Linked DNA regions of Homo sapiens: regions 2 and 3 are each linked to region 1. The links come from fine-mapping of genetic effects on gene expression. A gene starts in region 1. Each other region holds a variant in brackets. All regions are shown on one strand. Distances are between the middles of the regions. Region 1 holds the start of CD82 (CD82 molecule). Region 2 overlaps CD82 (CD82 molecule). Region 3 overlaps CD82 (CD82 molecule).

Region 1 (10,144 bases):
CAAGTGCCAACTTGCTAGGTGTGTGAGTACACCATCTTGAAAATGGATCCCCAACCTCCAATTGAACCACCTGACATTGCGTAGAGCAGAGATAAGCCGTTGCTGCTGAGCCCACCCCAAACTGCAGATTTATGGGCAAAATAAATGAGTGGGATGGTTTGTTACATAACAGTAGGAAACAGATACCCGCACTCATTCTCTTTACCTTCCTCCACCAGAGATGTGCAAAAGTCTTGGGGCCTTAACCTAGGCCCAGACACTAACAGGGAACTGGCCCCCATGTTCTTGCCTACAAGTTCTTTGAAGTCTCCTGCTCAGCTGTTCATCTTCCACCTTTGGGGTGGGGGAATCTTCTGAGAGCCTGGCAATCCTATAGCCATACCTCTCTGAGGTCTTGCCACACCACCGTCTTCCCCATCTCCAAGTTGGCCATGGATATCTTCTCTCAAGGCTTTCTAGGGTGGTTCTTCTCACCCCTTTTCCCACCTCCAGAACTCCTGGCTCCACCTCTAGAATGGACTAGAGGTAGAGTCTCACTAGAAGTGTCTGCGCTTTCTGCCTGGCAAAATGCCCAAGGTGAGTCATGACAAAGCTTGCCTTCTGCTGGAAGAGAGGGGATAGGGACAATGCTGAGGGAGCCAACCCAATGTGATATTTCAGTGAATGACTCTGCTATGGTTTGAATGTATTGGAAACTGAATCCCCAAATTCATATGTTGATGGTATTTGGGGGTAGGGCCTTTGGGAGGATTAGATAAGGTCATCAGGATGGGGCCCTCATGATGAGGACTGGTAGCTTTATAATAGGATGAAGAGAGACCTGCGGTGGCATGCCCTTGCCCTCTCACCATGTGATGAGTCAGTAAGAAGGCTTTCACCAGATGTAGCCTCTCAACCTTGGAATTCCCAGGCTGCAGAACTATACAAAATAAAATTCTTTTATCGATTACCCAGCCTATGGTATTGTGTTATAGCAACAGAAAATGGACTAAGTTAGACTCAGATGCACATCTACTCAACAACTGTCCCTTAAGCTTCCAGGCATGTGCTAGAAGCTGGGGAGACAAGGCCAAATGGCAATGTCACCATAGACCTGGACAAGAGGGCACCTGTGGCCACCCAGAGCCCACACCTGACCTTGATCATGCTTTGGGTGTTTAAAAACCTAGACTGCCTATCCAGCCCAAGCCAGTTTTTTTGTTTTGTTTTGTTTTGTTTTGTTTTGTTTTGTTTTGTTTTTTGAGACAGGGTCTTGCTCTGTTGCCCAGCTGGAGTGCAGTGGTGCAATCTCAGCTTACCGCAACCTCCGCCTCCCTGGCTCAAGCGATCCTCCCACCTCAGCCTCCCGAGTAGCTGGGACCACAGGCACACGCCACCACACCCAGCTAATTTTTGTAGTTTTTGTAGAGACAGGGTTTCATCCTGTTGCCCAGGCTGGTCTTGAGCCCCTGAGCTCTTTAATCCTCCTGCCTCAGCCTCCCAAAGGGCTGGGATTTCAGGTGTGAGCCACTGTGCTCAGCCCCCCAGCCAGTTTTAAGGTTTACAAAGCTGCCTGCCCAGGTCCATCCTCCTGAGGGTACATCCTGTCCCTGGAATGTGCATTCATAGAGAGGTGACGAAGAGGTGGCTGTAGGCAAGGCGTGTGGGCAAAGTTTGGGTGTGTGGGCTGGAGTATCCACATGCCTGAGTCCTAGGCCACTTGTGACACAAGACAGAGATGGAGTGTGAAGAGAAGTGGAGTGGGTGGGCTGAGGGCTAGGGCCAGGCTATCCTCCCGCACTGCCATGTTCTTGCATAAAATTCTAAAGAGTCCAAGAATGCTAAATTTGAACATGGTCTTCCTGGTCATTAGAAAGAACATTTGTCAAGGCAGGAGAATACACATTTTATTTCACAGTCAGTTAAATGTTTAGATACAAGGTATCTGGTCCTTGATTTGCACTCTTAACTTGGGCTCTCCATGTTCGGGCAGGTCAGCATAACAGGACCAGTGCCCAGGCCCTGCACTCCTACAGGGAGACACTCTTCTGTGGGACTCAGACAATGACAGGGAGTATGGCAGAGATTCTAGAAGCTGCCTGAAGACTGCTCTCAATGTCACCACAGCTGCCTCTATCTCTAATCAGGAGTGGCAGGGCAGCAAGGGATAGCAGATGGGACTAATATGAGAGAATGTCTTCATGGGGGGAGGGGACAGTGAGGGGATCCAGCTGTTTTGCCAATGGCCAGTTCCCATCTGTCTGCTGGAGCCCTATTAACTTCAGTAGGGATGGTACTAGGTTCAAGAGGCTGAAGGAGAGACCAGAGCCAGCAACTGGGACATGGGGTTTTATTGGGAAACTTACACACAGGGACGGCCGGTGGCAGTGGGCTGGACAGGAGAACTGTACAGTCCCATGGCAGGCTGGGCAGGAGAGCCACAACCGCTTACAAAAAGCATGCAGTTTATACATCACTCTCACTTAGCACCCTCCCCCTAACAACCCCCACCTGATAACCTTCATTTGGCCCCAAACAAAGAGCTTTGAACCCCTGTACACCCTGCATTCCACAGGATGGGCCGGGGTTCAAATGTTCCTCACAGATAAGGAATGAATCTCCAGGTTGGTCATTCCCGGATTCCTTAGCTCAAAACTCCAAACACACATTGGGGTGCATCTGCCATACAGGACCATTCTCAGGGTATGCTTAAGTCAAGTTATTGCTGTCAGGAGCATCTGCCATACACCATCACAAACACCCCCAGCTCGGAGGGAGCGGGGTGTGGAGTAGGGTGGAATAGGAGGAATTTTATGCCCATTTTGCATGGGCTGGGTAGGGTAGGGATCTGAAACCCAGCCCAAGACAGAATGGCACAGTGGTTCTCAAAGTGTGGTCCCCGGACCAGCATCCACATCATCTAGGAGCTTGTTAGGATCTTAACCACTTGCAGGATAGAGGGTGTCTCTCTGCGGGTATGACACACTGCTGGGTTTAAAGGATTCTCCAGCCTCACTTTTCTGACTTGGTGTGGGAATGCTATGAAGGAGACTTTTTGCTGAAAAGAGAACATTTTCTGAGCATGTACGGCATTCAAGCGGTGGGCCAAATACTTTATGAATGCTGTCACATGTAATCTTCAACAGCTACCATCAAGATCGGTATGATTGTTATGGCTCATTTTATTATTATTCCCTGTTTAAGGGCTCATCCCAGAGGTTAAGTATCTTGCCTTGTCCTGGGTTTAAAACGCAACCAGGAAGCTACCTAGGTCTGTGTGATTCTCAGACCACCCTGACTTCTTTACAGTTTGCTCAACAGTGGTTCATGCTTGAATGTGATTCAGAATCACCTGGAGGCCTTATTAAAACCAATTGTCCCACAGTTTTCCATTCAGTAAGTTGGGATGGGGCTTCAAAATACGCACTCCTAACAAGTTCCCAGATGATGTTGCTCCTGGTTCAAGGACCACGCTGTGAGAACTACAGTGCTGGGCTGGGATCCAGCTCCCGCCCTTACTCCACTCGTACAAAGCGCTCATAATCATACCCTCCCACAACGGTGTGTTGTGAGAGGACATTGTGATAATGGAAGTGAAAGAGCTTTGTCAGCTGCACAGGTGAATGCCCCTGGTCATTAACCAGGTAATCTGCCTGAGGCTAGTCCTCTGGAGCCTGGGAGGGCAGAGGGCTGGGACGCAGGGTGGGCACCGCAGCCACCTAGAGAGCTCTTGCAGCCCACCTCAATTTTGGGCCACTTTTTCTTCAGGGAGAAAGCCAGCTTTGAGGGCTTAGGCCCACAGCCCCTCCTGCCACTATTCTCATCAACCCACACCTCCTCCCTCACCTCAGGCAGCTGCTGGGCACTGCCCCAGCACTGGTTGTTCTGGGCTACTTCCCCAGGGGCCAGTCCAGGCAAGCTGGGGCAGCTCAAGCCTGTGACTCAGGACCTGAGGCTGGATCCCGCTCACGCCCGCCTCCATGAGATTCAGAGCCCTCGACTTCCCTTCTCTGAGCCTTAAACTGCGCATTAGTAAAATAGGCGCAACGAGAGTACCCATGAGTTGTGGGAATTCAAGGGCTAGAACTGTATTCAGCGCTTGGCATAGAGCCTGGCCCCTGGCAAGGATTCAATCAATGGTAGTCAGTATTTTCAAAAAGTTCCTGGGCCCAGGCCGCCTCCTGATAGAGGCCCCGACTTAGGACACAAACCGCTCCCACGCCGTTCCCCGGCGGCACCCGGATACACCCGCCCTGGAATGCCAGCGTGGGGGCCCCAGGGCTACCCGCCCGAGATGAGAGGGGCAGGGCAGGGCAGGATTAGGAAGGCGCTGAGCCCAGGCTGGTGCGGGGAGGGGCGTGGCCTCACCCTACTAGGGCCGGGGGATGGGGTGGGCTCGAAGGAGAAAGTGAAGGAGGCGGGGGCGCTGGGAGGGCCCGGGAGGAGACCGGGAGGACGAGGTAGGCGGGAGCTGGGCGGGACCGTTAGGCAGCGCCGTGAGTGGACAGGGCTGGAGCGGGGCGGGCTTAATCCCCAGTGTAACCTGGGGGCGGGGCTGCCGGGATAGAGGAGAGACTCCGTAGCGGGGCGGGGCCTCAGCTCCAGCTGGGCCCGGGGGCGAGGCTGGTTGGGGTACGGCCATAGTGGGCGGGGCCTGGCCGGCGGGAGCGCACCGCCTTCCCAAAGGGCTCGGGGGCGGGGCCGGCGGAGGGGGCGTGTCTTCTGGGGGCGGGGCCTGCCGAGTCCGCGGCGTTCCCCGGCTGCAGCCGGGAGGGGGCCGAGGAGTGACTGAGCCCCGGGCTGTGCAGTCCGACGCCGACTGAGGCACGAGCGGGTGACGCTGGGCCTGCAGCGCGGAGCAGAAAGCAGAACCCGCAGGTGAGCAAGGGGGCAGCGGGCCGGGGTAGCCTGCCGGACAACCATAGGCAAAGTTAGTTTTAGCCCCCGCTTCTGCGGTCCGGCTCGGACAACTTTCCTCGGAACTAGTGACAGGTCGGGGCAGCTGGTGGGTGAAAAGGAGCTTTAGCCACCAGTCCTGAACCCCCAGTTCTCACACTCGGCCGTGCACAGCTGCGTGATCCTGGGTCCGTCCCTCTACCTGGCTCTGGACCTCCCGGGTTCCAGCAGGAGGAAGTGAACCAGGTGAATTCCACGCTCCCGTTGCCCTTTCTCACTTAAAACGCCGGAAGGTGAGAGCTGGCAGGTGAGAGCAGGCTGCAGGTCGCCACAGGTGTTCCCATCGCGTTGCCCTCTGCAGTTTCTCTCCCTGCAAAATGGGACTGAGAGAAGCGAATTGCTTTAAAGAGTGCACTGTTTCCTCGGTTGGGGCTCGAACCCACCAACCCTGGGGAAGAGGAGGCCAAAGCAGGGAGGTTCCATTTCCCGCCTCACCTGCTTCCCACCAATTCTAACAGTTCAACTGAGCCGGACCCCCTAAGACTTCAAGTTGGAAACTCAGTGGGGCTTTTCCAGGTGAGCTGGCCTGAGCAGGAGGTTGGAAACTGGGGAACAGTTCTTACACTGGTGAGTGGGGAAGAGAAGGGAAAACCCCACCAATCCTTGGGCCCAGGGTCAAGCCCAGGGCCCCAGGGGCCCTTGAAGCATACCCGGGGTTAATTTCTTGGCTGACGGGTTCTGTTCCTGGAGGTGGTGGGTGCTCTGTGCTGGGCCCCAGTAGCGGGGCAGCATAGTTCTGTGGTCAAGGCTTGGGCTTTGGGATCAAACTGATTTGGATTCCATTCCCCCTCCAAACTTCAGTTTCCTCACCTGTAAAATGGGGATAATGACAATATCCAATAGCAGGAGCAAGCACTAAATAGAATAATGTGTATACACTACTTAGCAAGGTGCCAGGAAACCAGTGAGACCTCCCTCTGTGACAGCTGCTTTGATGCGGGTGGGCAGGTGATGGGCTTGCTTCCTATGGGGAATGAGCCTTTTTTTTTTCTTGGAGAGATGGGGTTGGCTACAGCCCCTCCTGACCTTGTGAAAGCCAGAAATTGCCACCTGCCACCAACATCACTCTATTTGAGGGATGAGGACTGTGTCATCTGGAACAAAGAGTGGCTGAGTTTTCTGTAATGTTGCTTGAGGTTGGTAAGTGTTGAGTTAAATAAGTCTAAAAATGTTTACTGAGCACCTACTATATGCTAGAGAGAGCTAGAGGATACAGAGGTGAACTAGCCAGGCCTGAGTTGCTGACAATGAGGGCTCCCCCATCCCTACCATGTCCCTGTAGAGAGGATCAGTCACACCCAGGGCTTATAACCAGATGAGATTTCATGGGTCTGTTCTGCCCTGGTGGCTGGAATCCAGCTATACCATTGCACACTTGGCTTGGGATGGGGGCGAGGGGCAATGTGGGCACCCGATATCTAAGCAGGGTTGGACACTGAAGGACGCTGAAGGTGCTGCATTATATTGGCTCCCTGCATCTTCTGGGAGATAAGCTGTACAGTATGGAACAAACTGGAAAGTGCTGTGGGACAGAGACGGACTGGCGGCTGCGCTGTGTGCAGGAGACTGTGTGTGTATGTAGGGCAGGGGGAGGTGTTCAGAAGAGTGAGACACTTGAGAAGCCAGGGCAGGGGGTGGGGGTAAGGAGGCTTCCTGGAGGGGGTGAGACTTGAATAGGACTTTCTCTCTGGGCTCCTGGTCCTGGTTTGGCTTGGATCAACATGGGACCACAGTCTCTTCAAGCACTGAAGTGGCATAAATTGGAGTTTGGTATGGTGGGGAGGGAGAGGGTCTGGTAGGTGGTGCCTGAGGTGGGGAGGAGGAGACGTTCATTTCAACAGAGCCTACCTAGTGAGCCTTAATGGAAAGCCCTCCCCACCACCACCCCCACTTCCTGCTCGATGAATGACAAGCGACCACATAAGGCCTGCACCCTCAGGTTGCTTACCATCCGGGAAGGGGCTTACACAAGAATACCAGGGACTCTGATGGAAGATAAATGAAAAAAGGATTAGAGGGATCTTCAGGGCCTTACAGACTGGGAAGATTTCGGCAGCCAGAATGAAGATAGTGTCTTGAGGAGAGGAAAATGCCTAGGCAGAGGCAGGGAGGTCAACCTGTCCTGAGAATTCTCGAGAAACCTCTAGGTTGCTCATTCTGGCTGAAGTTTGGGAACGTGTGGGGATATGCAGTGGGAATAGTAGGTGGGATCAGCTTACGGAGGGCCTTGAATGACAGGATAAGAACTTTGGATCTGATTTGCAGAAAGTGGGAGCCACTGAAGGTTTCTGAGGAGAGGAGTGACACAACAGAGCAGCACTTTAGGAAAGTCAGTCTGTACCAGATGTGCTGGGGTGGAGGATCCAGCGGTCAAGGGATAATGAACCAATGGCTGCAGTGACTGGGAAGAAGGGGTCTGGGTGGCTTTGGGGATGTCTGCAACTGGGAGTGAAGGAAGAGACACCAGCCACAGGGAGAGCAAAGGCACCATTGGAGGGGTGGGAGGGGACTGTTCCAGCACATTTGCACTTCTTTCTCCTCCCTATCCTGTCTGGTACATAGCAGGGTCTCAGGAAGGTGGCTGGATTGGGTGAGTGGCGGGGTTGCTGGGAGGGTGATGAATGCTACAGAGGGGTTTGCCCATGAAGGGGAGGCATCTGGGCCGAAAGGTGGGAGCCTGTGCCAGCCAGCAGTAAGTTTGGGGGTCGGGGGCGGGATGGTTAGAAGAAGTGCCTGCTGATCCCTCCCTCCCATCCCAGCCCAGGGAGGATAGGGGTGAGAGGTCAGCCATGTGCTATCTCTGGCAGTGGGTGAGCAGTCAGGGCACAAGTTTCCCACAGTAGGGGGACTGGGGCAGGATTTTGGCTTCCCTGGGCTCCTCTGAAGTTTCCGCTATGTGGGGGCGGCCCCCTCTGTCTTGAGGCCTCACGCTTTAGAGCCACAGCCTGGAAGCTCCCACCGGCCATCCCCTTCCACCCTGGGGACCCAAACCTGTTCCCCTAAGGACCAGACAGTCCTCCCTCAACCCATGGCTGAGCAGCCCCAAGTTCTGAGTGTTGTTTCAGATTCGGAGCATCTGGGGCCAGCTGGCACCCCTGATTCTGGCTTGACCTTGGCCTTGGCCTTCTGCTCCAAACCGTTATACCCACTTCCTCTGCCCCATGGGAAGCTCACAGGGGGCGGTTATGACTTAATCAAGAACATCAAACGGCCAGGAGCTGGCTCTGTGAGAGGTGGGAAGGGAGGGAAGAGCCTGGACTGTTTGGCCTGGGCCCCTCTGTGGGACAGGACCCGTTTAATCTCAGCAGGAACTGCCCTACCCACCCGCTTCCCCTCCACTAAGCCGGGGTCTGAGGAGCTGGGAGGGGAAGCCCAGAGGTAAACATGGAGTGAGTGGTGTGGGATGTGTTGCTCCCCTCGCCCCTGATGCTGCCCTAAGAAGAGGCAGACAACCACAGACCCGGGGCCTCTGCAACAGGCCCAGCTGGTGTCTCTCGGAGGCTGGCTGGTTCCTGACTCACCCCCGGGCTTCCCCTTCCACTGTGGTTTTCCTGTCAGCAGCTGATTCACTGTGCTGACATGGACAGGCAGCTGATGGAGGAAAGAGACCTGTGTTCTGGTCCTTGGAGTTGGCTGCTGCTCTGCTGTGTGTATGTTGTGTGACCTTAGATAAGTTCCTTCTCTCTGGGATTCCTTCCCTGACTTGCTGATGCCCCATTCTTTCCTTGGCTCTCGGGGAGTTCTGGGACCTGGGATCTATCCTTTGCAAAGTAGGGCATGTCTGTGAACACCCACCCATACTCAGGCATGCGCACACACACAAATACAACCCCAACACAGAGGAGCTGGGCAGCTCCCCTCAAAGAGCACTTGATCCTACCTCCCTATTTTTACCTTGTTTCCCCCACCTGAAGCACCTTTATCTTCTTTCTGCCTGTTAACAGATTAGGGAGATGATGGTACAGCATGGCGGTAAAGCACTGGACTTTAGAGTTGAGATCTCGGCCCTGCCAATTTCTGGCTACGTGACTCTTTCTGAGCCTCAGTTTTTGAACCTGCAAATGGGGATAATAATGGTCATGACTTCATAGGTCATGAGGAGAAGACAAAAAAGTGCACATGAAATGCTTAGTATTGTTATACCTAGCACATAGTAAATGCTCAATAAAGGAGAGCCATTGTTGTTTGCTGTATCTGGTTGGTCTTTCAAGGCTGGTGCCAGGCTCCTTCTCAGGCCCCCAGGGACACTCCCAGAACACCTTCCTTCTGCACAGGGCCTCTGTGCCTCTCCAATATGTGTGTGCCCCAAGACGCCAGTCATGTCTGGCTATGTGGGGCTCTCTGGCTCTTCCTGGGGGTGGCTGGGTCTCCTCACTGTGACGCTCAGCTTCCTGAGGGGCAGTAGGTCTGAACATCTCTGGCTGCCTTTCCCAAGCCCCTCATTGCCCTTCACCTTCTCCTCTGTGCTTGGCTGCCTTTCCCAAGCCCCTCATTGCCCTTCACCTTCTCCTCTGTGCTTGTCTACACTGTGTACCCTCCTCTTTGATCCTGCCACTTTGTGGTGTATGATGTGTTTCCATGAGCTCTCCTGGGCAGGCACTGCCCTGTCCTGTCTGTATCTCTGATTCCTGGCATACAGCAGGCACTTGGGGATCGATGACTGAATGAATAGGTTAGTGGTTCTCTTGGGTGAGGCCGGGGGTATCAGCAGTACCTAGCTTGGTACCACATACCAGGTGACTCCTTGGCAAAGTGGAGCCGGGAAGCAGGACCTGGATGCCACTGCCTGGTGCTTCAGGCCTGTGGGCCGCACTTCTGCAACCTGGATCCAGGGAGATGGGAATGCACCGTCTGTCCTGGAATTGCTTTCAGCAGAGCTTCTGCTTCTCTTCCGATGCCTGGCCTTTATTACCCTCCTGAGAGGGGAACAGCATGACTTCCTTCAGTCCTAACCCAGGAAGGGGCCACTCTGGCCTTTAGTGAACTCTGACTCAGCCAGAAAGAGCATCTTGGAGTCAACAATTGTTTGTGGAAGGTGCTGCTATCCTGTGGGGACTCAAGCTGGGGCCTGGAGAAATGGGACGGTGGCCTCCAGGAAGCCCATCCTGGACATCATCCATGCAGACCCCCAGGTGGGCAGCTCTGGGAAGCCCCACTCTCCCCTCTGACCTCCTACCCTGCAGCAGAAGCTTTTGCCTCTTCTCCGCCG
Region 2 (10,688 bases), 30 kb after region 1:
GTGGGTGCGCCATTTGATCCTCTACACCAGGGGCCAGCAGGCTTTTTCTGTAAAGGGCCAGATAGACCAGTAGGCATGGCTGTGTGCAGAAATTTAGATTCCATGTAATTTTCATGCATTAAAGAATCTTTTTATTTTTCTTTTAACTATTTAAAAATATGAAATCTGGGCCGGGCACAGTGGCTCACGTCTGTAATCCCAGCACTTTAGGAGGCCGAGGCAGGTGGATCACGAGGTCAGGAGATCGAGACCATCCTGGCTAACACAGTGAAACCCGTCTCTACTAAAAATACAAAAACAAAATTATTCAGGCATGGTGGCGGGCGCCTGTAGTCCCAGCTACTTGGGAGGCTGAGGCAGGAGAATGGCGTGAACCCAGGAGGCGGAGCTTGCAGTGAGCCAAGATTGTGCCTCTGCCCTCCAGCCTGGGCAACAGAGGGAGATTCTGTCTCAAAAAAAAAAAAAAAAAAAAGATGAAATCTGTTCTTAGCTCAGAAGCTGTATAAAAAACAGGCAGGGGGCTGGATTTGGTCTGCAGGCTGCAGTTTACCAACCCTGGTTCCACACCAACCCTTATTTCTGTCTCATGGATGGCAGACTGAGGCTCAGCTCTCAGTATGGGAGGGCAGAGCCGGGCATAACCCCTGGCACTCTGAATTCAACCTCGGGGGCTCCTTGGAGCTTGGTGGTGGTTGTGGATTCCTTGAAGTTGATGCCACAGCCCATCGTGGGTGACCTGGGTGTGTCCCCGCCTCAGGCTGAGCTGACTTCCTTGCCTGTGTGGGATTGCCCATCTCCCGCTGAGTGTGGAGAATGTTCTTCACCCTCTGCTCCCTGTCAGTTTGAGGCAGAAGCATCTGCACTTGCAGGGCAGGAAGACTTTGTCTTCTGGATCTTGGCCAGTGTGCCTGGGAGCTGCCCATCCCAGGTTCCAGTTATCAGCACCTTCTCCTCCCTCGGGTGATGTCCAGATACCTCTGGGTCTGTCCCACTTGACTGGGCTGCCTGGCTCTCATTTCAGCCTCTGGACCCACCCAGCTGCCTCCTGTGTGGGATGGAGCCCATGGGTGGTGTAAGGGGCCAGGCAGCCTGGGCCCTGTCCTTGCCAGTCCTCCTACTTGAGACCTTGGGCAGGCTCCTTCTCCCCTCTGTGCCTCTGTTTGCATGTAGAGGGCTGAAGAGCTTAGCCCAGTGCCTGATACAATCTGTGTGCGTGACCAAGGGACCAGCCAAGCTTGCCCAGGGTCTGGAATATCATGGGAATACCAGCCCAGCCACGTCTGCCTTGGTGACAAGGTTTCCCAGCCTCCTCCTTGCCCTCTGAGCAGAGCTCCTCTGAGCAGTCATTTTGTCCTCACACCTAACTGGACAAAGGAAACCCAGCCGTCCCCAAAGATCCCTTTATAATCCTGGCTACTGTCCAGGAGGGACCACTTCACAGAAGAAAGATCTTGGGGTCTGAAAACCACTGCCACTTATGACCTGTGTGACTTGGGCAAGTTACTGAACCTGTCTGAGCCTCTGGTCTGCCAGGGATAGGAATACTCACTTCCTGGGCTGGTTGTGAGGATGATGGGGGATGATGTCTGAACATGGCCACTTGTAGTAGTTGCTATTCCCTGGCGGCCACTCCTTCTCCTTACAGACGTCATACTTACTCTTATTTTTGTTTTTATTTTTTTTGAGACAAAGTCTCTGTTGCCCAGGCTGGAGTGCAGTGGCGCAATCTCAGCTCACTGCAACCTCCACCTCCTGGGTTCAAGCGATTCTTGTGCCTCAGCCTCCTGAGTAGCTGGGATTACAGGCACCCACCCCCACGCCTGGCTAATTTTGTATTTTTAGTAGAGATGGGGTTTCACCATGTTGGCCAGGCTGGTCTCGAACTCCTGACCTCAGGTCTTCTGCCAGTCTCGGCCTCCCAAAGTGCTGGGATTACAGGCATGAGATACCGTGCCCGGCCTATACTTATTCTTTTCTAAAAGCTGCCCTTTGCTGAATGCCCCACCGTGAGGCTGAGCAGAGGATGTGTGAGCTGGAAAGTGTAGAAACCCCTTTCCCGGACTTTCTGAAACTGCAACACCGTGGATCTGACTCAGGGTTGCCAAAGAACTCTTTCCACACTTCTGCAATTTCACAAGGATGCCAATGGCCCCATTGCCAAGACGCATAGTTTGTTGGCGGACTGCAGTTAGTGGATGTTCTTCTGGTGAAGGGGTGGCCTAGCTACTGCTGCTTGGGCGCTGAACCTGGTTGGTCTCTTGGGGCATGCCCCGTATTGTTTACTGGGAGGAGACCTGGTCAGGCTGAAACACAGCAGATCCGTGGTAGGAAAGAAGAACAGATGCCGCCTGGCTTTGGGAGAGAATCTCTCTTCTCTTGCTGTTTAGTTCCTGGAGTCTGTGAAGTGCCTGTGGTATGTCAGGCTCTGTGCTGGGAGGTGAGAGAGAGGAAAAACAATAGCTATCCTTGATGTAGTGCAGACTCCCAGGAGGCCTTCCTAGGCCAGGACGGGGTTTGGGCATTGAAGATCTCTGGCTTCCTGGGCACGGGGAAGTCATGTTTTCTCCTCTCTAGGTCTGGGGAGTTGCCCAGGTTGCACTGCCCTGGCTCCCGAGTCACTGCCATCTCTGCAATTCTCAGACCCAGGCCTTGGAGCCCCCTAGACTGGAAGAGCCATTTAGTCTAATCTCCCTACATAGCACTTAAATCCCCCAGGAGTATTTTTTTAGACTTTGCTTCCATGCCGCTTGTGATGGGAAGCTCACTACCACCCAGGCAGCTTTTTCCTAACTTGGGCAGCTTTGCTTCATATTATACCTCCCAAATCTGCCCTTTAAAAAGGCACTTAAAGAAAACTTCCTGTAACAAAGCTGTTAGAGGAAAGAAAACTGGACTGGACCCCTTGGGAGGTCATGAACCCTCCTCATTAGCCACCTTCCCCATCACCGGAGGTGTGTGAAGTGGAAGCTGAGCTCCCACTTGACAAGGAGGATGGAAGATTGTTGATCGTTAGCATGTCCAGAAAAGAGTAGGGAACCTGTGTGTAGCCGGGGAAATTGAAGACTTTCAAGTGGTGCTGGAGGAAGAAGGAGTGAAGCCCGGGCCTCCGGCTTTCCTTTCCCTTTGCTCTGTGGCCTGCCCTTCCCCCTCCATAAGGCAGGGAAACACAAGTGGGCCTGGTGCCGTCCCCTCCACCCCCCCAGCCCAGCTCTGCCCATGCAGCTGTCCCAGGCCAGCTGTCCAGGCCCCAGCTGCCCGGCGGTGCTGGCTCCCTTTGCCCCAAAGGGTCTGAAGGCTGGCGGCTGGCACTCCTGGATTTTCTGGCCTCTGAGTCAGGGTGAGAACAGTCAGCTTCCAGCTTCCCTCTTCCTCCCGGGGCCCTCCCCTCACCTGGGGTCTTTTGGAGTGGAGGGGGCACAGCATGCCCAAGCATGGTTTGTGTCATTTCAGAAGCACAACTTGTGTCATCGGGGAGACTGTGAAAACTTGGAAACAACCTGTGTGTCCAATCTTAGAGTATCAGTTAAATGCTTTTATGGGATGGCCACATCTGAGACTTTAACCTGGGGCCACTGGGGTTCCTGAATGGGTTTCAGAGGTCCATGAACTCCCAGAAATTATTAGCATCACAAAATGCTAACTACACATGAATTTTTTGGGGGACTCTGTGAGCCCCCAAATGTTAATAAGTACTAATAGGATGGAATCCTATGCAACATGTGAAACTATGAAGAGCATTTTATCAACATATAGAGAGTGAAGATTGTAGAATGAAAAAAACAGGCTAGAAAACACTATACAGAATGAGCCCAATTTTGATTAGAACCATTTGTTATACACACACACACACACACACACGAATAATAGCTACTAAAACGATGACAGTTTTTAATCTCTGGAGTGAGATACATTTTGCTTGATTTCTGTTTTTCTGTATTTGTTGGGTGTTCTACAATGCATGTTTATTCCCTTTGTAATAAGAAGCTGGGACGCTCAGCCTATTTTCTGAGAAGCCAAAATTCCCCTTCTCGCCTTGGCAGACCCCACAACTCCCAGCCCCTAGTCCCAGAGGGAGTCTGTGGAACAAGCACAGGTCTCACCTCTGGGTCTCTGTCAATGGATCACTAACTTCCCGGCCCCCTGACTTCAAACAGAGTCCATCTGTGCAAGTTCCAGAGCCTGGGTCATGGAGGTGAGGGGTGAGGGTCTCCCTCTGTCATTTTGCTCCCACCAGCCCCAGCCCCAGCCCCAGCCCCAGTGCAGTGGCTGATCCGGATCCTAACTGCCAAGCATCAAGTGCCTGGCACACAAGACTGCTCGTGGGACCTCATTTCCTAGCTGTGTGGCTTTGGGCTAGTTGTCTAACCTCTCTGGGCCTCTGCATCCTCTAAGGCAGGGACAGGGTTAGTACCCACCTCCTGGGGTTGCTGCAAGGGCAGACTGAGCTGATCCCCTCACTGGCCTGCCTGCCTTCTCTCTTCCAGGAAGCTCCAGGACTGGCGGGATGGGCTCAGCCTGTATCAAAGTCACCAAATACTTTCTCTTCCTCTTCAACTTGATCTTCTTTGTAAGTATGTCCCATGCCGTCCTGACCACCTCCGAAAAGATTCTCCTTCCAGGGGCATCCCAGCCTGAGCCTTTCCAGAGCCGACCGGGCCGGGGATTGGGGGGATTTGGTGGGTAGGGACTGAGGACGAACTATCTCCAACGGAACCTAGTTGGGGTGGTGAGGAGATTCCCTGCCATTCCCAGCTGGTCCTTTGACCAAGCACTGGATTCCTGACCCGGCCTTCCCCTCTCCTAGATCACCCAAAGCCTGGGCTGGCGGTGGGTATGGGGAAGGAGAGGAGAGCCCCTGGGCATCCCCCTAACTCAACAGCAGGAGCTGCTAGAAGAAGCCTCTTAGCATCTCTCTAGTCCTGTCCTGGCCCCCACCCTGCCCATGTGAAGAATTGACCTGTGACAGTTCCAGGCCCCAGTTGCCCCTATCACACCCCCGTCCCTGTCGTGGGAAGGTATCTCCCTGAGCTCTCATAGGGAGAGCAAGAGGGCGCCAGGCGTGGGGCCAGTGAAGGGCACATACCTCCTTCCCCAGACCCACCCCAGCAGATGGGCCATCCGGATGTCAGCTCTGTGGACATTGACTGCTGGTTTTCCTGGGGCCTCGGTTTTCCTCTCTGGCCTGGCATGGACTGCCTCTTGCCTTGGAGTTGCTGGGATGGTGGGGTGTGTGTGTGAGTGAGAGTGTGTTGTTGGGGGGCAGTGCCCTGGAGAGGACTTCATAGCCTCAGAGTAGTGTTGGGAGCGCTGGCTTCCCTGTGTTGACGGTTTAACCCTATAGTGTTAAAAAAAAATCAGGTTGTACAGTAGGATGTTTCTTATGATCCAAAGTTTTAAATGTACGTATTCATTAAAAAGTGAGTATTTTTGAGAGGAGAAGAAAATACCTCAATGTTAATGTTGGGATTCTTGGGAATTTTGATTTTATTCTTTATGCATCTCTGTATTTTCCCAATTTTCTACGGTAGATATTAATTACTTGTTTGGGGAACAGGGGGTTTACATTACAAGTTACATAGTTTATGGGAAGTTTGGGAAATAAACAAGAATCATTCTAAATTCCCCTTCTGGCCAGACATGGTAGGTCTTGCCTGTAATCCCAGTGCTTTGGGAGGCCAAGGCAGGAGGATTGTTTGAGTCCAGGAGTTCTAGACCAGCTTGGGCAACATAGCAAGACCCTGTTTCTCTACAAAAAAAAAAAAAAAAAAAAAAAGAATTTTAAAAATTCCCCCTTCACAGCTTTAACCCAATGCACAGACATGTACAATGTGTTCCTGGCACCCGCACACAAGTGTTCATACACGCATGCACACACACAGGAAGCCCTGGCGCTGCCTGCCTTGCTTTTTTTCCACCCTGGCCCCGGCCCTAGCTCCCTCCTGGAGGACCCTGTGAGGCCCCACTGTGGCTCTGGCCCTCTGCTCATGGCAGCCGGGCCTGGAACCCACCCCAGGCCGGGCTTGGGCTTCCCCAGCTTGGCGGTCAGGTCTCTCCTGGCTGCCCTAGGACTTTGGGAAGCAGCTGCCTGTGCAGGCAAAGCCAAGCTTTTCCTGGCAAGCACTTGGTGTCTGGGCGGAGACCCAGCATAAAGGCCAATGGGCCAGGACTCGGGGGAAGGGGTGCGTGGGCACTGTAGCTCTATCCCTGGGGGCTTTAGGGACTAGAGAGAGGAGCCTGGGCTCTGGCCTAGGAGATCACGGAGCTTGGGTTTCAGTGATAAAGAAACTTTCCTTCATGCAGTGGGGGTTGGGGAGACCCTCATAGAGAAAGGGAGTGGGGTTGGTGGTTTCAGCCAGGGTGGCCCTTTCTGTCCTGCTCGCAAGTTGCCCTGTGGAACCAGGGACTGGAAAAGCTGCTCTCTGGCCAGGGCTTGGCCTCCTTTTGGCTCCTCCAGGGGCTGGCAGGAGTCAGGTGTTAACTGT[C/T]TGTGTACTGGGGCCTAGGATGACCCATCAGGATGGTGGAGGGGGGAGGGGCAGCTTGTATGACAGGAGGGTGAGAGTGAAAGAGGAGGGCTGGAGGAGGCAGAACGGGCTTGTTTACTCCTCAGCAAATGTGTATCTGACACCTCAGCATCTTCAGATGTTCAGGGCGGAAGAGCCCTGATTGCTATACTTCCGGAGCTTGTGTCCTAGGGAGCAGTGGGCTTCCATCAAATAACTACTCAAATGCATGAAAAATTGCAGTTGTTGGGGGTACTAGGAACAGATAGGCTCTTCGGAAAGCAGATGAGGCTCTTGGCCTGGTCATGGAGGTCAGCAAAGGCTTCCTGGGGTTCTGGGTGTGGCTTTGGAGAGGGGGATCCTGGCAGCAGGGGCAGCCGGTGGAGGCAGAGTGCACCTCCCCAGGCATAGACCCGGCCAGCCTGCCTCTTTGTTTTATGCACATTGGGAGGGGTTTCGTGGTTGGATTTGTGGTTTGGAAAAATCCCCGTGGCTGCTATGTGTGCTCGCGCCTGCGTGCATGTGCACCTGTATGTCTTTGCCTGTACTCCCTCTGGACTCCAGACTCCCCAGCGCATTGCCACTTTTCTCAGGTCCAAAGGAATGCAGAGGCACTGGTGCTGTGGCTATGCTGGGGAAGGACGCTCACTGCTCTGAGGGTCCTGGCTCCTGATGGGTCCCATCTGGGGATTGGGGAAGGGCTGGGGGAGTGATTAACATGGGGCCTGCCCCACAGCTCCAGTCTTGGTTCACAGAGAAAAAGGGGGTGCCATGGTGCCTTGCCCATTCTGGTAGGCTGCCCAGCCTCCTTTCTGGCTCTGCCACAGCCCCGTGGCTAATCCAGCCACATCTGACCATCAGGCTGGGGTCATCAGACCTACAGAGGGACTGAATGGGTAGCCCCGGGGACTTTGCTCTCTGGGTTCCTCTTGGCAAGCTGAGGAGCCAGCTGAGTAGTGTGGGGTTTTGATCTACTTGGGATTATGTGTGCCAAGAGGGGATTTTCTGTCCTGCCTCCCATTCCCTTTTGGTAGGGGCTGTCCTCCCTCCTGTCCCACCCTGTGAATGTGGGAGGGAATGGGGCAGGGGCTCTGCCCACATGGGTCTGAGATGCAGAGGGAGCAGACGTGGGCCTGAGCACTGGCCCCTGCCTCGCTGTGCTGTGGGGTGGTTGTGGGCTGGGTAGGGTTGCAGGTCTTGGGGAACCAAACTCCCAGGTCCTGGAAAGCCCCCATTTCCCCCAGCTGTGCAAATTAAGGTGGACCCACCTTCCAGCAGACTCTTCTCCTCCCCAGTGTCTCAGGGGCTTTTCTGTCCCGAGACTGGCTTTCTGGGTGAAGGCCCAGGATGGATCCAAAATATCCCTATAGCTCACCTGCCACCATCTGGCTTCCAGTCCCTGATGGATAAAATCAAGGCCTCATATAAAATTCCGTGTGTATAAAATGAGGTCAATTACAAGGCCCGTCTCACTGGGAGAGAGGAGAGGACAGATAATACCTCAGTGATGATTCTGGTGGGAGACACTGGGGGGCAGACGTGGGGTGGTCACCGTGCCTTTGTGGTTGTAGTCATCAGTCACAGTGGTCTTTAAGGTAGCAAGTACAAGGGTAAAGGGAGAGAGGCAACCCCCTACTGAGCCACCTGGGCCCTGGGGCAAAAGGAAACATTGATAATACTGATACTGTCAACATTTTATTTCAAAGTTTAATAGTTCAGTTATCATGGATTTTTGGCCTTAATTTTTTTTTTTTTTTTTTTTTTTTTTTTTGAGACGGAGTCTCACTCTTGTTGTCCAGTCTGGAGTGCAGTGGCGTGACCTTGGCTCACTGCCACCGCCGCTTCCTGAGTTCAAGTGATTCTCCTGCCTCAGCCTCCTGAGTAGCTGGGATTACAGGACCCCATCAACACGCCCAGCTAATTGTATTTTTAGTGCAGACGGGGTTTTGCCATGTTGGCCAGGCTGGTCTCAAACTCCTGACCTCAGGTGATCTACCCGCCTGAGTTTTTGGTGCCTCCTCATGTGTTACACCTGAGGCAGGTGCCTCGTGCCTTGGGCCGGTCCTGGCTCTGGTCTTTGATAATGATAGAATGATTCTGATGGAGACCCTGTGCCCAGGCCAGCCCCAGGCTCGGGGCTCTATGGCAGCTGCTGGCCTCCAACCTGAGATTATGGGATGATGGCTGAGGTGGGAACCCAGGGCTGTGATACAGGTGGGAGTTTCAAGACGGGTCATCCACCAGGTGGGCCCAGTCCAGGCCCCCACTAATGGCCAGCCTTGTGGGTTGACACAGGGCCACCCCCACCTCCAAAGGGAACCTGCATCTTTGCCCAGATGGCAGGCACTTCCCCAGCCTTTGCCAGCTTTATGGGATGGTGGATCTTGGCTGGGACTCCACCTGGGGAGATGAGCTCAGCCCTGGTAGATGGGAGAGAGGCAGGGAATCCCTGGGCTTGGGATCCTTATTTGTAACACCTCATTCATTTTTTCCTTTTTGTGGGGGGCAGAGTGAGGGGGTCTTGCCCTGTCACCCAGGTCATGTCATGAACACAGTTCACTGCAGCCTTGACTTCCCTGGGGCCAAGTGATCCTCTCTTCTCAGCTTCCCCAGTAGCTGGGACTACAGGCATGCACCACCACATTGGCTAATTTTTGAAATTTTTTGTAGAGTCAAGGTCTCACTGTGTTGCCCAGGCTGGTCTCAAACTCCTGGGCTCAAGTGATCCTCCTGCCTGGGCCTCACAAAGTGTTGGGATTACAGGCATGAACCACCGGGCCTGACCTTCATTTCCCTTTCTAGTCCTGCATTTGCAGTTTGGTTCATCAGCTCATTCATTCCCCCAGCCACTTAGCACCCAGTGCTGTAGAGCTGCTGGGGATGCAGAGCTGCCTCCAGCCAGCCCTGCCCTCAGGGAGCTCACAGTTTAGCCAGAGAAACCAACACAGCAGTTAGACCCAGTCGGAATGACTGTTAAGAAGGGTGGGACAGTGGTTGCTGCAGAATGGGGGCACCCGAGTCTGCCTGAGGGGGTCAGAGAAGGCTCCTGTGGCAGGTGACCCTGTTGTTCAGACCTGGGGATGAGTTGGGCTTTGATGTTCAAGTCCACGGAGGGTCCTCCTCAGAGCCTTTCTTGTTTGGGAAGCTCCCAGGCCCTGAACTGGGTGGAGTCGGGGGGATGAGCTGAGAAAAGAGCCAGGAGATGTGGCAGGAAGGGTGCCCCTGGCAGGAGGCTGCACCAGGAGGCTTGGCTGAATCACACATGGTGGAGGGGGGCAAGATGGGAGGCAGGAGGGATTCCCTATCCAGGGTCCTGGTGTCTGGCTTGCTGCGATGTGGGACCGGAGGCCATCTGGACATCTCTGGGCTGGAGAAGGGTGGATGTGGTGCCCTCTGTGGCCCCCTGCCCTGCCCACCCTGACTTGGGTTCCAGGGACAGCTGGCAGGGGGAGGGCTATCTGCTCTTGGCTCCCCATTAACTGCTCCCTTCTCCTTCCAGATCCTGGGCGCAGTGATCCTGGGCTTCGGGGTGTGGATCCTGGCCGACAAGAGCAGTTTCATCTCTGTCCTGCGTAAGGACCCCTCAGCTTCCCCAGACCCAGGCCCACTGAAGAGGGGAGGGCCAGGGCGCAGATACAGCTGCTCCCATAAGTGCTTCGGCTTCAATGCCTGTTGCTTTTCCCGCTGACCTCAGGGATGTGGCGAGGTCCTGCTGCCCACCACTGCCCATGGCTCCCTCTGCAGGGGTTTCCAAAAGGAATTTTCTCTTCTTCCCCGAACAAAGCTGCTGTTGTCTGGGGGAACACTGGGGATGAGGGAGGCTTGTTTTCCCTTCCTGGCCCCTTCCCTTGGCCCTGACCTTAGGAAAGCCTCTTACATTCTCTGTCCCGTCACTTGCCCATCCAGCAGAATGTAGGCAACAGCCCCTCCCATTTCACAGGGATGTAGGAAAGATAGTCAGGGGCTGATGAGGCACCTGCTATGAGTGGTGCTTCGCTATAAGCCTGGCAGCACCTACGTGGGTCAGGTGTGTGCACAGATGAGGAAGGTTCCAGGCACAGTCACCAATTATCAGGCTCCTCATGTGCCAGGCAGTTTGCACCGATAAACTGTCTTAATCCCACCACAGCCCTGTGAGGTAGATACTGTTCTATTCCCACCTCACCAATGAAGAAACAGAGGCTCAGA
Region 3 (10,688 bases), 47 kb after region 1:
AAAGCAGCTTGTTTGGCTGTGAGACAGGAAGCCAGCAGTTAAGGGAGGGAAATTCCTTTCCCAGAAAAATGGTCATGGGGTCAGGTCTTCATTTCTGTCCTATGGCACTGAGCTTCTTTAGGACCTAGTTAGTGATATAATCAGGGTGGATTAGAACCAGGCCCCAGTGAGCCGGTTTCTATGACTCAGAAGCTGGTCGCCTCTGCAGGGATCTTGGGCAGTCCACCCTATGTGATTCACCATCTCACAGTAATAAATATGGCCCACCAGGTTGGCACCAACCACATGCCAGGAGCTGAGCTAGAAAAGTGAGCTGCAATACATGTTCAAATTTACAAACATTTTCCATTTGAAGAAACTGAGGCCCAGGAAAGCAAAGTGACTTTCAGCCACTGACACACACAGCTTGGATGCATCAGAGTGGGGATTTCCATCCTGATGCCTTGGAGTCCAAGGCCCATGCCTCCCTATCCACCACGCTGCCCTCCCGCCGGCTGGGTAACTCTGCTTGGCTGATAATGAGGAGCTTAGCCTCAGAGGTGTCCTATCAGCCCCAGAACAGGACTTGTTTGGAGATTTGGGTTTCTCGACCCCAGCCAAGCTCTGTGCATTGCACCCCCTGCCCCTGTCTTCCCCTTCAGAGTCCACACCCCCTAGTCCCAGCCTGCCTCACCTTAGTCCACCACCATCTTTTCTGGAAGGCAGGGGGAAATTTTCTGGCTTTGCTGAAGAAGTTCTGGTGCCACTGTATCGCCCGAATTGGAATGAACAATATATTTTTTTCTTTCGCAACGCATCATAAATCTCAGTGGAAGACTAAACATACTCTTGATGTGTTTATTCTGGCAGACAAGGCTCAGCGTGGGGGTGGGACTTGTTTGAACCTAAGGAAAAGAAAGGCCTTTTGAAAGGAGATAGGGCTCCCGTGCAGGTGGGTGGGAGTGACCCTGCTGTGGTCTCCAGGGCTGCCCTCTGTCCTTCCTGCCTCTGTCACCCGCAGCCACTCTTCTCAGGGCAGCGATGGGGAGGTTGGGGACCTTGGCATGGCCTGTCACCTCTGGAGCCTTGGGTTCTGCTTCTATAAATTGAGAATAAATCTGCCTCTCCCTGCTCTACCACTCAGGTTGAAGTGAACACAGACTGTGACACTTCTGTGAAAATGCAGAATGGTGTCCAAGGGTCTTGACTGTGGAACCACTGCTCTGACATTCTGGGCATGCTACTCAGCCTCCCTGTGCCTCAGTTTCCACATTTGTCAAACTAGTAACAATATAGGCCCACTGTCCCTTCTCTGCAATTCTGAAATCCAAAGAAACACTTTAAAAACCAAAAGTAGCATTTGCAACTAATTTGGTGGCAAAATTGAACCTGAACAGAAGCAAGGCTATGTATGGCCTTTGCCTGCCCCATTCGGGTGTCCCTAGGGAAATAGAAATGAGACTCACTGCAGGCTGCTGCCCCAGCCCCCACTAGTGGGTGTGATCTGTCCCTCCAGGCCCTTTCTAAAATCTGATCCTGTCTCGAGCCGGAGCCCCCAGGGGCTGCCTTGCAGCACTTCAGAGATGAAGAGCACTAACAAACGGGAAGGGCGTCGTGCGGCACTCAGCCGGAGGCTGATGTTGCTGGCATCATTGCCAGTGTTTATTATTATTGCCGCCATTATTCACTTCATGAAGGCCTGGTAAGGGCTCAATAGGTGGCAGCTGTTCCTGCTGCCCTCGTTGTCAGCAGAGCAAGGGCTGCGGGAATGGGGATCTGGGCACGGTGCTAAGATCCTCATCTGCTTGTTTATCCAGCCTCTGGTGAGCAGAGCCCAGCCCTGGGATTCAGGGGCCCTGTGTTTTAGTGTGGGCTCTGCCGCTGATTGCTGTGTGGCTTCGGATAAGTTACCCAGACTCTCTGATCCACAGGCGAGCTCTTGGGCCATGCCCAGTGCAGGCAGTCAGGGATTCTGACTTGTTCTCTCTAGAGAGTGGAGGTGGGAGGAGTGAGAAGGAAGTGAATGCAGTTTGCCCTTTCCTGTGGTGTGTGGGTGCTGAGCTGGGTGCACTTGGCAGGCCATACCTGTGCCAGGGAGGCCCCTGAGGCTCTGAGTGCTGTCACGCTCAAGCAGAAGACATTGGAGGGGAAGGGGCTCACTTGGCCTGGCTGGGAGCCAGAGGTGGGGGCTGTGACAGTGGCAGTGGCTGGCCAGACAACTCCCCAGAGATGTTGGTCAGGGGAACTGTGACTTCCTTCTTGTCCTCCTTGCTCTCACCCTGAAAGCCCCAAATTGTTGGTGCGCACATACCCTCATGTGTGAGACACAGGTGGCGAGACGGGTTCCTAGGGGACAGTGTGGTTCTCTGTGAACTGTCTGCTTGCTGAATTAGAACTTCCTGATTCTCTGGCTTGGGGTTCTCTTGCGATGGGGCAGAGGGAGGAAGAGCAGCTGGAGCCTGGGACAGGGAGAGGTGACCTTTCTCTCCCCTGTTGAGAAGGGAATGGAGGAGTCCAGGCTACCCCTCTGGAAAGGGATTATGGAAAGACACTTGGGCTAGAATCTCTGAAGCACACGCTGGTCACTGGCTCTGCATTCTGGGGTAGCTAATTACGTGGATTGCAGCTGGACTTGCAGAAAAGATGCAGGAAGCGCCCTCATTTCCTATCAGGGTACTGGGATGCAGCCTCTGAGCTGGTGTATCTGTATTCTAGCAAAGCATTTGCCAACATCTCATGTGGGAAACCTGGAGAGGACAGGAAGATGTGGGTCCAATTCATGCATTTATACCTTATTATAAGGGGCTATTTCACACCTTAAAGAGCATGGCAAGAGGTCTGCACAGCACCCCAAGGGGCGGGCACAGGAGCCCGAAAAGTTACCCTGGAGATGTAGTCTAGTCTCAAGTATCTGGATGACATGTGTCCTTCGAGAGAGGGATTTGATTTGTTCCTGTGGTCCTAGCTGGGACTTGGGTAGCTGAGAGAGGAGGAGGATGTGAACTAATACAAGTGGGTAGAAGTCATTTGAGCAGAACTTAAATTGTATCAGAGCCTCTCAACTCCGCAACATGCTATTGTGTGAGGTACTGACTTCCCCATCGCAGGGAGCATTTAAGCAGAGCCTAAAAAAGCATGACTCTTACATTTGGATGATTTGCTGGACGCAAAGGTCTCTCCTAACTCTGACTCTGTGAAAATTCACACTAAAAGAGAAGTCAAAGCTCAGCATTTGGGTGGGACGTGAGTAGAGCCATGCAGAGGACAGCAGGGTCATGGGGAGGCCCTGGGCAGCTTGCCGAGGCTAAGATCCCGGGTCCCTGGAGCTGCACAGATCAAGGTCTGGTCATGTCTCTGCTGCTTTCTATCTATGTGATCTTGGGAAGTTGCTCCAACTCTGAGCCTCATTTTTCTCTTCTGAGAAATGGGGAGGAGGGAGACAGGGAAGACAGGGCTGGCTTCCTCGGCATTCAACCTATGCAGTCACACAGGATAATCTGCTGTTGCTGTATTGAAATTCTTTTTTTTTTCTTTTCTTTTTGAGATAGAGTCTTGCTCTGTTGCCCAGGCTGGAGTGCAGTGGGATGATCTCGGCCCACTGCAACCTCCACTTTCTGGGCTCAGGTGATCCTCCTGCCTCAGCCTCCCAAGTAGCTGGGACTACAGGCACACACCACCAGGCCCAGCTAATTTTTGTGTTTTTAGTAGAGATGGGGTTTCACCATGTTGGCCAGACTGAACTCGAACTCCTGACCTCAAGTGATCTGCCCATTTCGGCCTCCCAAAGTGTTGGGATTACACGTGTGAGCCACCACGCCCAGCTGAAATTCTTAATAATTTTTAAACAAGGGGCCCTGCATTTTTGCTTTGCACTAGGTGTAAATTATGCAGCTGGCCCTGGGCAGGACTCTTTATGGCATGTGACAGTGACTCAACTGAAAGTAGCCAGAGCCAGCAGAAGGCTCAGCTGGATCCCAAAGGCTGCTGCTGTCCCTATTCACCCTTCAGCCCTACCCTCCTCTGTTGGCTCCCTTCTCGGGCAGGCTGTCCCCAGTGGAGCCTGAGGGTAGCCCAGGTCCTCATCCTACCACATTGATGGAAAGAGGGCCGGGTATGTGAGCATGGGTCTCAAGCCCATCTCTGAACCACTCGCCGTGCCTGTGATGTGGATGGCACTGAGTGGCAGCCCAGGTCTTTTGCCTGCTTCTGGCATCGAGGGAGTGGGGCCTCCTCAGCTCCATGGAGAAATAGAAGGGTGGTTACATCCAAGGAGTGGGTTTCTGCAGGGCAGGCAGAAACAATGGAGCGGTCCCTGGGGGGATGGAGGGAGCTCATGAATGTCTTCTCCTGCTACCTCCCTGTCCTTTTTGTCTCAGTAGCTACCTGGTTGCCAGGGTGACCTCCCTGCACTCCCAGCACAGGCCTCCTGAGCATCAGCTCCAAGCTGAACCAGCCCCTGTGGCCATGGTCCCCGTGGCCCAGGTGTGTCCCTCAACCACATTCTGGACTGAAAGATGTTGTGGTGTTTCCATGGAAACCACCCATCTAGGTGGAAACCACCCAGCTTCCATCACCTTCTCATTTCAGGGAGGCTGGGAGAGAAACAGGGAAGTCCAGGCTGCTGTGACAACCACGCTGGGGTTTAAACAGAGCCTCAGTGCAACATGTTGTGAGGAAGCTGGGTGGGTGGGGAAGGATGTGGGAGAGGCAGCTTTCCGCACAGATGCTTCTAGAGAGCCCCTCCTTTCCACACCGTGGGGATCACCCACCCACTGGGGTTGAGAGGTGGACCCGAGATGTCAGATCACCTGGCAGACAGCCCCAGCTATGTGACTCAGGCAAACCACTTAGCTTTTCTGGGCCCTGGTTAAAACTGGGTATAGCCGTGTGGTTTAAATGCCAATAAAGCTTAATAGGTAAAAACCTGGGTTCTGAAATCAGCCAAGCCTGTGTGCAAACCTCACTTCTTCCGCATGTTGGCTGTGTGACTTTGGGCAAGTTAATTAACCTCTCTGGGTTTGTTTTCTGCATCTCTATAATGAGGGAATGGGGTGAATACCTAGGCCATAGGTCTGCTGTGAAGATTCAGTTGAGATAATACATTTAAAGTGCTTACCACAGCACCAGGTACATAACAAACATTTGATAAAAGTTAGCCACTATTAGTGTTGGGATTAATTACTGACAGGAAAGCTTTGTAAATTGCAGAACTCTGTATAAGGGCTTTTTTTTTTTTTTTTTAAATATCATGCTGAGAGCTTTATTGAGAGAAGGGCAGGGAGCGTCATCAGAGGCTGGTTTCCCAGCATTAATTTTTTTTTTTTTTTTTTTTTTTTTTTGAGATGGAGTCTGGCTCTGTCGCCCAGGCTGGAGTGCAGTGGCGTGATCTCGGCTCACTGCAACCTCCACCTCTCGGGTTCAAGCGATTCTTCTGTCTCAGTCTCGCGAGTAGCTGGGACTACAGGCACCTGCCATTCACACCCAGCTAATTTTTGGTATTTTTTTTTAGTAGAGATGGAGTTTCACCATGTTAGCCAGGATGGTCTCGATCTCCTGAGCTCGTAATCTGCCCACCTTGGCCTCCCAAAGTGCTGGAATTACATACGTGAGCCACCATGGCCAGCCCCAGCATTAATTTAACCAAGGGAGCTGGGTGAGGAGCCAGGGCTGCAGGTCCATCTGCAGGATATGGGTTCTCTGAGCACAGCGTTCATTCAAGGACTGCCCATGGGGAGCTGCTGGAAGCTCCACCAACAGGGTTCCCTGGGAGTCAGGCTCTGAAACCCCACCTGGAAGTACCTGTCTCATTTCTCCCAATTCTTCCTTCTCAGGAACCGAGGTGGGAAGGTGTGTGGCCTTCTCCTTGGCATCCCTGCCTTCTAGGGTCCCTCGCCCCCACTGCCTTGACCAGTCCAACCATGCATTTGCCCTGAAAGGTCTCTGGGCAAGGTCCATGTGAGAGGCTAGGTGGAGCCAGGCAGGGGCTGGCTCTCGGAGGCTCCCCTCCCACCCAGGCCTGCTTATCGCCGAGGGAGGCCCTGCCCTCAGCGGGCTCTGGGTTTGCCTCCTTTTGCACAACTGACTTATTTAGAAACCCCTTCTCTGCCTGCTTTGTAAATCAGTGTTTTCTCTGTGGGGTTAGCTGAGAGCAGGTGCTGCTCTCCACCACAAGAAGGAACCCTTAATTCCTGAGCAGGGTGAGGACCAGCATAGGCAAGATGTAGATTTGGGCCAGGCGAGGTGTCTCAGGCCTGTAATCCCAGCACATTGGGAGGCTGGGCTGGGTGGATCACTTGAGGTCAGGAGTTCGAGACCAGCCCGGGCAACATGGCGAGACCCTGTCCCTGCTAAAAATACAAAAATTAGCCGGGCATGGTGACTCATGCCTGTAGCCCCAGCTACCTGGGAGGCTGAAGTGAGAGGATTGCTTAACCCCAGGAGGCAGAAGTTGCAGTGAACTGAGATCCTGCCACTGCCCTCTAGCCTGGGTGACAGGGAGACCCTGTCTCAAAAAAACAAAACAAAGCAAAACAAAAAAAAAAAAGTGAGATGTTTTTGGAGCTCTGGGGCAAGTAGCCAGGTCCCAGAAAGGCAACTGACCTCACACTCCGGCTGGCTGGCACTGCTGGCTTGGGGCTTGGGAAGGGGTGAGGGAGGATCTTTTCTGTTTTGTTTTTTGTTGTTGTTGTTTTTGTTGTTGTTTTTGTTTTTTGTTTTTTGAGATGGACTCTTACTCTGTCGCCCAGGCTGGAGTGCAGTGGTGCGATCTCGACTCACTGTAACCTCCATCTCCTGGGTTCAAGCAATTCTCCTGCCTCAGCCTCCTGAGTAGCTGGGATTACGGGCACCCACCACCATGACTACATAGAGGGAGGATCTTTTGACCATATAGTTGATACCGAAGTTCCAGGTCCCTCAGTCTTGGGGCCCCCTCCAGGCATCTACCCTGCTGTCTTGGGGGCCCTGTTTGGAGAGGCTGCACTCTGGTCCTTGGAAGAAGGAAACTGAGCTGGGCTTTCCTCCCTGTCCCTCCTTCTCCCTGAAGCTGCCCTGTGGGAGGTGTAAGGATTCACCAAGAAGTTGCATGGGTCTGGCTCTGGTGCCTGGCAGACCATGGTGGTTAGGTGTGCATTCAGCATTCACGTACCCCACACAACTATTCTGTGCCAGGCTTGGCGCTAGCCACGGGGGACCCTGTAGTGAGCGTGCCAGATGTGGTCCCTGCCCCCACGGAGCTGATGTGCTAGTGGAGAGAGATGATAAGCCCTGAAAACCAACAAGCATGT[A/G]ACGTCAGTGCTCTAAAGAGAAATACAGCATGCTTTCCCTTGTGGGATAAGGGAGGCCGGGGAGGGGTGGTTGATTGGTTGGGGGAGAGGGGATGGGGAAGGGCTGATATTTTGTAGAGTGGTCTGGTAAGGCCTTTCTGAGGAGGTGACATTGGAGCAGAGCCCTGAAGGAAGCAGAGGGTGAGCCATGTTAATGTCTAGGGGAAGAGCATTCCAGGCGGTGGGAACAGCAGGTGCAAAGGCCCCAAGGCAGGAGTGTGCCTGGCACAAAGACAGCACAGAAATCTAGTCAGTTGAAGCAGAGGGAGGAAGAACAGAGGACAGAAGGCCTGGGGAGGCAGACAAGTGGTGTAGGACCTCCTAGGCTGTTATGGGGACAATGACGGTGGGAACTGCCCTGGAGGTGGGAGGCCCCTACGGGGTTTTCAGCAGTGACATGAGAATATTGATGTTTACAGGGCCAGGCTGCTGCCAAGCGCAGAAGAGATAGTGGGGCAGGAGTGGTTGGCACTGCCTGCATCGGGCACCCTGGGAGCGCCAGGAAAGTGGCTGGAGCCATGAGCGTGTCCCAGGGTTGCTGAGGGGAACGGGGGGAGGCAGTTTAAGTAGGGGTGACCACAGGTGGGCACGGGTTTCAGGAAATCTGACCCTGACCTTTGTCCTCCCCCCTGCAGCTGAAGCAGGAGATGGGCGGCATCGTGACTGAGCTCATTCGAGACTACAACAGCAGTCGCGAGGACAGCCTGCAGGATGCCTGGGACTACGTGCAGGCTCAGGTGAGGTGGGGCGGGGCTGCAGGAGGCTCTCTGGCCTGGGTGTCCCTGCATTTGGGGCTCTGTGCACCCACATGTCTGGGACTGGCATCTGCAGTGCTCGTGTGTGCCTGACAGTTTGTAGGAGAGTGTGCTTCTATGGGGGCAGGGCACCCCAGTTAGCACCACAACTCCCTGCTCAGGGGGCCCAGAGACTCAGAGGCAGCTTCACAGCTCTGTGCTCCCATTTGTGGCCAGAGAGCATGGGGGCAGTTGTCAGCCCTCTTATCTCAAGCTACACTGGGGAGCGTTGGGAGCTCCACTCTGGGTTTTAGGAAACTGGGAGCCAAGGCTGATATGCTGAGAAGTCCCAGTGAAGGCTGCCTCTGGGGAAGGGCACTAGCTGGGGAGGTGTTGGGGAGCCTTCTAGGGCAAAAGGAGTATTTTAGCCAAATCTTGATACTGGTTTCGCCAGTATGTGCACATACGTAAAAATGCACCAAGCTGAATGTGTGCCCATTAGTTCATGTGTATTATACCTCCATTAAAGTGAGAGAGATGGATGGATGGATGGGTGGACAGATGGACGGACGGACTGACCGACTGACCAACAGATAGACTGACCAGGTTCCCAGCCTGTCTCAATAGTGATCCAATGACCACCTGGCTCTCCTTTCTTGTGGTCCCGGATGCTGCATGTGCCCTTGGCTGGGACCTGACATCTCTGATCTGCAATCCTGTGAGGGCGCAGGACACAGTGGTCACTTAGGGCCTGTTGACACCTCAGGGGAGGGATGTGGAGTACAAAGGGCATGGGCAGCAGGAGAAAGCCTGACTCAGCGGCACCAGGAGAGTTTGCAGAGAGGACACTCCATCTAGGTGACATGGACATGGCCATTTTCTCAGTGGAGGAAGGGGAGAGCGATGTTTTCTGGCCCTGACCGAGGAGATCAGGTGTGGGGGTTGTGGCAGCTGGAAGGCTTGGTGCACACAAGGAAATGTTTTGGTCGCATATGTAGTTTGACCCACAATTGCTGAGACTTTGCTAATTTTAGCAAAGTCTGGATGTCACCAGTGACATAAACCAGTGCCACCTGACAAGGGACCTGGGAGGAGAAGTGGGTCCCTTGGGAGGTGGTAAGCATCCTACCCTGGAAAGTCATTGGCTGGTTCTAGATGATTCTGATGCTGTCAGATGCTGCTTAGGCCGGTGGTAAGTCAGACTCCCAAGGCCTGGAGTGCTAACACTGCCACAGCCGCTAGACCTTTGCTGAGCCTGCTTCCTCATCTATACAATGGGGCTACTGACCCATGCCGTGTGAGATACATTGTTAAAGCCTGAAGCACTTAGGCAGCATTTATTATGTGGTATGTTGGTGGTGATGTTTTAGTCACCATGCACATCCATGGAGACACAGGCGGAGGTGGCGTGTGCTGCTGGGGACCAGGTACAGCCGGAGTCAGGCCAAGGGGTTGCTTGGAAGGAGGCTCTGTCGTAGACGGGCCAAGGAGACCTGCCTCATTTTGCTCTGGTGTAGGATGGCCTGTGGGTGCCCCCAGCCTTGCAGACCTGTGCACCCCTCAGAGGTGCCAGCCTTTTCTTGGAGAGAGGAGGCAGCCCGGCTGCTGGAACAAGCACCTGTAAACCTGGATTAGAAACTGCCTGGAGCTGAGCATTTCTGAGTGTGCCTGGCACGCCCCCTGCTGGCCACTGGCTACTGGTCAGGCGACACCCCTCGGAGCTAGGAAGGAAGCGGTCCAGGAACTGACCCCTGCTGTGACCGTGGCTATCCCATTGAATCCTCCCAGGAACCCCCAGCATTGCGGGGATTCACACACAGAGACCTCCTTTAGCACACAGAGCCCGGAAAGGCTTTCTTCTCTCTAGAACTAGAGCATTTTCTCCTTTAAAATGGCAGAATTGACCAGCTAGCCAAGGTGGCTCACACCTGTAATCCCAGCACTTTGGGAGGCCGAGGCGGGCGGATCACTTGAGGTCAGGAGGTCAAGACCAGCCTGGCCAACATGGTGAAACCCCGTCTCTACTAAAAATACAAACATTAGCCGGGCGTGATGGCGAGTGCCTGTAATCCCAGCTACTCAGGAGGCTGAAGCAGGAGAATCGTTTGAACCCTGGAGGTGGAGGTTGCAGTGAGCCAAGATCACGCTGCTGCACTCCAGCCTGGGTGACTGAGCAAGACTCTGTCTCAGAAAAAAAAAAAAAAAAAAAAAAGGCGGAATTGACCCCGTCTCCTTTTTCACTTTTCACTTTTTTTCCTTTTCACCAGGAAGCTCAGAGGCAAATCTCAACTCCTGCACTAAAGTTGAACGGCCTTTCCTAAGCTTATTGTGCTCCCCACACCTATGCTTGGTACTTTGCCTGCCTCATCCCATTTAGTCCTTGTGATAGCCCTGTGAGTTGGGGATTTTAATTATCCCCATTTACAGATGAGGAAACTGAGGCTAGTTCCTTGATGGAGGTTGCTCAGCTGGTAGGCGGCAGGGCTGGGATTGTAACCCAGTAGCCTGACTTTAAACCCTGCACTGTGAACTGTCTGCCGTCCATTCTCCTTGTGCCCTGCACACCTGCGCTCCTTCAACTTGAACTTCCTTCCTACTCTGCTTTGTATTTTTGCTGGTCCTGGTTTTGATTTTTCTGCTGTACTTGTAG

Evidence for each region. PIP is the estimated chance that this variant, and not a neighbour inherited with it, causes the effect.
Region 2: its variant is the best candidate, but not a certain one, in a credible set for the expression of CD82 in blood mononuclear cells (TOPMed, PIP 0.86).
Region 3: its variant is the best candidate, but not a certain one, in a credible set for the expression of CD82 in whole blood (TOPMed, PIP 0.81).

The regions. Positions count from the first base shown.
Region 1 is chr11:44,560,880-44,571,023 of GRCh38, forward strand. It overlaps CD82 (CD82 molecule), which reads left to right and starts at 4,784. Exons shown (of 10, transcript NM_002231.4): 1 at 4,784-4,857. RefSeq lists enhancers at 956-1,457, 1,458-1,957, 4,797-5,297, 5,803-5,872, 8,179-8,228 and 1 more and a silencer at 4,283-4,882.
Region 2 is chr11:44,590,159-44,600,846 of GRCh38, forward strand. It overlaps CD82 (CD82 molecule), which reads left to right. Exons shown (of 10, transcript NM_002231.4): 3 at 4,485-4,567; 4 at 10,000-10,072. The coding sequence starts at 4,505. Among named protein-coding and RNA genes, the nearest start is that of CD82-AS1, 9.8 kb to the right of the region's middle. RefSeq lists enhancers at 6,065-6,643, 6,644-7,223, 6,647-6,886, 8,212-8,712, 8,713-9,213. The variant C/T (reference allele first, on the strand shown) is at 6,483.
Region 3 is chr11:44,607,333-44,618,020 of GRCh38, forward strand. CD82 (CD82 molecule) reads left to right here. Exons shown (of 10, transcript NM_002231.4): 7 at 7,940-8,041. Among named protein-coding and RNA genes, the nearest start is that of CD82-AS1, 7.3 kb to the left of the region's middle. RefSeq lists enhancers at 1,568-2,068, 2,072-2,241, 9,085-9,434 and silencers at 4,704-4,783, 4,854-4,903. The variant A/G (reference allele first, on the strand shown) is at 7,266.